Linked DNA regions of Homo sapiens. The protein of the gene in region 2 purifies or fractionates together with the protein of the main gene of each other region. This does not show direct contact. Each region holds a gene or a part of one and is shown on either strand. Other genes may lie near its edges.

Region 1 (2,612 bases), on a different chromosome or scaffold from region 2:
CAGCCACAAAGATCTGGGAAGTGTTTTTCCAGCGTACAAGTTGCTCATAACCTTGCGTGGCAGACATTATTTGTTTGTAATATGGAGATGCTATGCATTTTGACCTTTCTAGATTGTGTCTAGCTGGTTCATGCCCCATCAGCCCAGCCTGCCACATGCCTCGATGTGGCACATGTCAGATACACCTCGGTATCAATACAACTAGCATCACCACAGCCCTTTTCTCTGAGAGCTCTCCCTTTAGGGGAAAGTCCTCTATATTCTCAGTCCTTGGCACAGGGTAGGTACTGGGCAAATGTCTGTCAATTATGGATCTTGTGAATTTTGAAAGGGCCTGCCAAGTCTTTGGGAAATGATGAAAAAGATACCTGTCTGAAATGGGTTAGGAAGAAGTTTTTTTGAGGATAGGTTTATGACTCTTCCTAGATCTATGATCCCATTTTATAAATTAGAAAATCTACCATTTTGGGACTAACTCCTCAAAATAAGAGTCAACATACTTAATTTAAAAAAAGTTTTATTAAATCATTTAGACTTGAAAGAAGTCACAAGTTAACACACTTAAGTGTGTTCTGTACACCACCAACCCAAATGGATTGATTTCAGAATTTTTATAAATAAAACATAAACATATTTACAGTGAAAAATAAAAACATGTTAGCAAGTGAGATGATTAAACTGTTACCTATAATCAGTTTGGGGGAAGTACCAACCTACAGGATTACATATAAGACACTTAAGATTTCATTAGGCTTAAAAAGTCCATAGTTGAAGAAGTTAGTTGTAATATATATGATCCATTTCTTACTACGGCTTTTTTCCTCCCAAAACTAGACCTTTCAACCAATTTACATAAAAAGCTTCATTTTCCCTTTATTGGAGGTAAAAGTACAAAAAGCTGTAAACCCACCCTAGAACCATCTAAGGAATAAAGCTATTGAATGCTACAAATAGGACTATAAAACTACGGACATAAACCGTTATACAGTTTGTGCTACTTGTCCTCCAAAATAGTGCAGATTCCTAATTTACCCGCCAGGGACAAAAATGGAGTCAGCTTTTTCTAGAAATCAGTTTCAAAATCATCATATCTCTAGAAAGCATATTTCTAGAACAATACAGTTACCACACAGGGGGACTTTCCTTCTTCTGCATTATAAAAATATATCCATTTTAGTTCTCACTATATATATATATTAGGGATTGCTGCTACCTCCTTAGGCAAATGGTGAGGGCTATAAAGCTTGGCCAGCAGCCAGTTTCAAGAGACTAACAAAGAACAAAGATAGCCCTTTCCTTAAGTATAGCAAAACTCAGGAGTTGGCTCAAATTAGGTTATGCCCCCAAATCCAGCTTAAATTTGATATAAAAAAAGTAGTCCACAAAAAAATTGAGCGAAGAACAAACTTTTCAAGTCTGCAATTTTGGACAGGCATATTCTAAGAAGTAGGCTATTATCTGCATCACCTATTAGGGTTGCTAGCACAACTTAAGGCTAATTGCTTGGCAAAGGGCTATGGGAGTTGTTGGACTGTCTTGAATGTTTTGTTCCCGATGAACTCAAGGAGCGAGACCTCTGTCTGAGCACTGTTTTTCCTGGAAAGTCCAAGTCCTCAAATACAGCATTTTCAATGATGTTTATAGCTTCAGGTCGTTCCATGGGGGATGGAGAGAGCATGTCTTGAACCATCACGTACTGAAAATATAAAAATTGTTTTGTGATAAAACGGCCAGGTTTGATCACTGTACAGTTTTTAAAATCAGTGCTGGCAAAATATTTCTGTACATATTTTAAGCTTTTGAGCCATATTCGAGTTTTCAAGTCTCTGATACAACTACTCAGCTCTGCCGTCAATGCACAAAAGCATCCAGAGACAATTTGTAAATTAATGGGCATGGCTGTGTTCCAATAGAACTTTATTATAAAAATAGGTGGCAGGCTGGATTTGACCTGTGGGCACTAGTTTGCCAACCCTCATTCCAAAAAAACATGGACAATTTTTGGGTAATTTGATTTTCTAACACATTATAAAGGATTATTTAATCACATCCCTGAAACATAAATATGATTTTTAAAAATCATCTTATAATTGCATGTAAATCTACAATTATCTCAATAGAAATTTTAATTAGAAAAAATTATGGCAGAGATCAGCAACCAACACCTTTTCTTGGTTTTTAAAAATCTCTTTGAACGTAACATGTACTCTTATGAGCCACCCTGGGAATAGATTCATCAAGTTTGCAAAATACATGATGACAATTTTTAGTAAAACAGACTTAAGTATATGTAGGTATTAATATATTGTTATAAAGTCCATTTTTTAATGCAACCCTTCATTATAATACTGAAAGATAAATTTTGACTTTTTCCAATTTGAAAATGAACACATACTAACTCACTTCAACTTAATTACTTAAGGAAATTCAAGATTTATCAATATATAAATTTCACAGGTGCTACAGTGTGGAACACTGGACATTAGGCTGAAGGAGCCAGGCCCCAGCTCCAGTGTTTGGTTTTAACAAATTCTGGGCTCTTGGGAGCAGGTCTCTTTCCTCTCTAGACCTTTGGCTTCCTCATCTGTAAAATAGGGGAAACTGAGTCGACT
Region 2 (4,023 bases):
TGCGCCACCACACCCAGCTAATTTTTTGTATTTTTAGTATAGACGGAGTTTCATCATGTTGGCCAGGCTGGTCTTGAACTCCTGACCTCAGGTGATCCACACGCCTCGGCCTCCCAAAGTGCTGGGATTACAGGCGTGAGCCACCATGCCCGTCCTACATACACATTTTTATGGGAAGAGAAATCACAGCTTTCATCAACCACTCAAAAGAGTTCAGTGATTTGAGAAAAGTTAAGTAAGATGCACACAGCTACAGACTGGTGCTAAGCACTGATGCCCCAATCTGTATTTTATAGAAATCCTGGATCCACCACCGCTGCTGTTCACCCTCTCCCACCCATCCTGACCCAGACCCAGATGAAACAGGCCCTAATGCCAGCCCTTCAGGTCACTTCCTGAATAACCAATGGCTTGGAAAAAGAAAAAAAATATTTAATGGAATCTGTGCTCAAATAATATGTTACAACAAAAATATACAGAATGTACACAATACAAAAATACTTAGAAACAAACATTGCAGTCTGTGTTTTGTTTTTTCCACTTACTCAAGTCCTCGGAGGGGCAGTTCACTGTTGGGCACTGTTTTTAAGGCAGAGGAGAACCGTGCTTTCCAGCCAGCACGGGGAGCAACATGAATGATGCCAGGAAAGGCTTTCACGGCACCCAGGGAATCTGCATTACGTATTTGCAAATTAAATTGGACGCTGGGGGAAGATCCTGGTGTGGTGAGCAACAGCTCCCCTAATCCTCTGGGCAAGAATGGTTCTCATGGAAATCGAGAGTCCTATTAGCTGGCAAAAGAGCCTCATTAGGGAGCTTTTCCTAATTAAAAAACGAATGATGAATGGTGTCATTAAAGCGAAATTTCTCCTTTGAAGGTTTGTTTTCCCTTCCCCAGTTTCTGTGATTCCTCTCCCGTTTAATGAGAGCCAGTGAGTCTATGGCTGCTGTTTGGGGATTCCCCAGCTTTCAGTTTCTGTATCCTGTGGATAAAAGGCCAACCTACCTCCACCAGCCTGAAGATTTACACACCACCCCCTGGGCTGGCAGCCACCTCAGACAAGGAAAGAGGCACAGAGGACACGGCCAGCCTTGGCCATGGGGAAGTGCTGCTGAGAGGGTGGTGGGACCTGCTGAGGAGAAAGCCAGATGCCACAAAGAGAACCCCTCTGACCAGACAGCTGCCTCCTGACCTGGGGAGAGGCCTGGGTCAGGTGAAGTGACCCTATGACCCCACCCTGTGGCCCCGCTTGGAAGTCATGGTTGGGAGAGGGGATGGAGGTGGGTGTGCTGACAGAGAACAGCTGGGGCTGGTGGTCTAAGGTGTAGACGAGGGTCCTTGGCAGCAGAGGACACACTTAACATGGTGGGAGACACGATTCCGCCTCCACTGTCCTTCTCAGTAACAAGCTTCCCTGGGAGTCCCCGAGGGAGCTGAGTGCTTCTATGAGGGATTTCTAGAATCTTCTAGTTCAATGCTTTCTCACCCCTAAGAGAGGAAGCCCCCTCTCCAGGTCATACCAGACAGAGGTGGCACTCTGCTCATTCCACCCACACCACAGAATCCCCAGGGGCCAGGACAGGAATCTGGAGGGGATTCTCCATCCCTCCAGGAAAGGACCTCATCGCTCAGCTTAGTGCGGCTGCAGCCCAGGCAGAGGCAGCAATGTCCTGACTCCTTCTGCATCCTCCCCTGGTCTTCCCTGAGCCCAGCTCCACAGCCTCAGAGCCTCCTCCTCTGAGGCACTGACTTCCATCTACATCTTTCTATCACTAGGGCAGAGAACGGTGGGCAGGGCACACACAAGACGCCCCAGGCTGACGCAACACCGCCAAAGGCGTGGGCCCACAGTGCCACAGGCTGCGGCCCTCAGCATGGCACTGGTGCAGGGGAGCAGGACCTAGGGAACTACATATGTGGATGAGGCCAGGGCAATCTATTTAGCAGTGGGCCAAGATGCGGTATGGCTGGGCCTCGCCTGCCAGTGAGTGAGTGAGCCCATTTACATGTAGTCACCAGGATGGGAAGCCACTGTGGCCCAAGACCCCAAATGCCTGGCCTGACTGACCCTGGACCCTGCTACACTCAAGGGCCAGGATGGGCACCAGGCTGGAGGAAGACCGTTCCCACACTCCTGCCCCTGTTTCTGGACACGCCCAGCCCCCCTGCCTCCTCCCAGGCCTGGCGTTCTTTGTTCTTCTGGGCTGTCAGTGGTTGAGAATTCCAAGAGCACGATAAAGGGAGTGTCATCTTTTGTCAAAGGTCATCCTCATGCCCTCCATTCGGGGCCTGCACCAGCTCCTGTTAGGAGGGTCATTCCCTCCATCTTGTTTTCTCACCTGTGTAATGGGGTGGGGTGGATTTGATAACCACCATGTTCTCTCCCGCATCCAAGCCTCCGAGGCTACTGGCTGCCCTCCCTCTGAGGTTCATCCATGCACCCAACAATTCTCCTGAGGCAAAGTTTTCCAACTAAACTGGAATTCCTCTTCCTGTAGCCTCCTGTCCCCCTAACTTAAATGGACACATGGCCTCAACATTCCTACCCCAGCCTCTCTTGCGCCCCCAAAGCTCTTTCTCTCCTAAGGGAGATAGGATGGAACCTTTTTGGATATGAAGGCCATCTCAGACGGAAACAAGAGCTGAACCTGGCAAACCTCAGCATCCAGGGATCCTTGGAGGGCTTGAGCTCTCCCTCCAGCAGGGCCATTCTGCCACCGGTCAGTGATGCTCAGGGGCAGGTGTGGAAGGGACAGGAGATGGGAAGGAAGGGGGCAGGCTTTGTCAAAGCAAGGACATTCAGCAACCACAGCACACCACGGTCTGCCACCTCTCACGGATGCCCACATGGGCCCCCTGCATCCTCCATGCCTTCTCTGCAGGCGCTGTCGTGCCTCAGTTACCTTTCCCATCACATACACACATATACGCACACACACACACACACGCATGAATGTTTCAAAACACTGTCTCCATAACCAAAGAGAGGCACAAAGTAGTGTCAGGGCAGCAAAAGGAAAGAAAAAGACCCTAAAACAAGGCTGGGCATGGAGGCTGGGGCACCCGTGTGAGATGCCAATATCCTGGAAGAAAGGGAGGGAGAAGTCTGAAGCTGGTCCTGGGTCTGTCTTCTCCAGGGTGGAACTTGGAATGAAGTTTATTCCCCCTGCATGGGTCCCTCTCACTGGGTACCCCCAGCACAAGAGGGGTCCTAGAGCCTACAGGCTCCCTGCTCTGCCCAACCCAGGCACAACAGATCATGCCCCGGTGCACACCAACCAGCCCAGGAGGGCACCCTGGTTTCAGCCAGGTCACAGCTGACATGTCCAGTAGGCCCTCTTCTTACTGGAGCCCCAGACACAGCAGGTGTCAAGGAGACACCACATGGCCTGCAATTATTTCTGAGCTAGAGAGGGGCCATGCCTGGACGCAACAACCTTCGAGCCTTCCCATGTCTCTTAGGGTCTCTGAGGGTAGAGGAGGAGGAAGAAGCTGCTGCTCAATCCGCAGCAGTGAGGGGGCACCCCCTGGCCCCATGGAAGAAGCCCAGCCCAGGTGAGGGAGGGCCACTCTCACACCCCACCCCAGACCTTCACCCTGGCCCGATGTCATCAGAGCAGCCGAGAAAAACGACAGCAGCCACATCAACTCCTCCGCCAGATGCCTTTCAGAAAAGGGTCTCCACTGTGTGTCCAAATCTAAACACAAACATTACAGTGGCCCAGAGTCTTCTGTCCTTGTCTGCCCGGCCTAGCTGAGCTGGTGATGAGAAGAAACCTCGCAGGCGCTCCCTGTGGGTGCTGCTTTTCCCTCCCCTCCCCGACCTTGGGCCTCCAGCCCTCAGGGGGGAGGCGGCAGCTTTAAGTCCAGCAGGGTGTAGGCAAAGATGTTCCAGAAGACAGCGAACAGCACGAAGACGGTGTACATGGCCACAAAAATCCACCACAGTGACTGGTCCTGGAGCCTCTGCTCGTAGTTCCTCAGGACCACCACGCCCAGGGTGATGCCCACGGCCACGCCAC

What was found.
Region 1: the proteins of RHBDL3 (region 2) and EIF2AK3 purify together in Homo sapiens (affinity purification with western blotting, with the first as the bait; one study listed by BioGRID). This does not show direct contact.

What each region holds. Positions count from the first base shown.
Region 1 is NC_000002.12:88,556,241-88,558,852, forward strand, and holds the end of EIF2AK3 (eukaryotic translation initiation factor 2-alpha kinase 3 isoform 1 precursor), read right to left. Parts: intron 1,697-2,612; coding exon 1,496-1,696; 3' UTR 501-1,495; downstream 1-500. UniProt on the Homo sapiens protein: Metabolic-stress sensing protein kinase that phosphorylates the alpha subunit of eukaryotic translation initiation factor 2 (EIF2S1/eIF-2-alpha) in response to various stress, such as unfolded protein response (UPR).
Region 2 is NC_000017.11:32,321,048-32,325,070, reverse strand, and holds the end of RHBDL3 (rhomboid-related protein 3), read right to left. Parts: coding exon 3,842-4,023; coding exon of another isoform or gene 3,669-3,841; 3' UTR 412-3,668; downstream 1-411. UniProt on the Homo sapiens protein: May be involved in regulated intramembrane proteolysis and the subsequent release of functional polypeptides from their membrane anchors.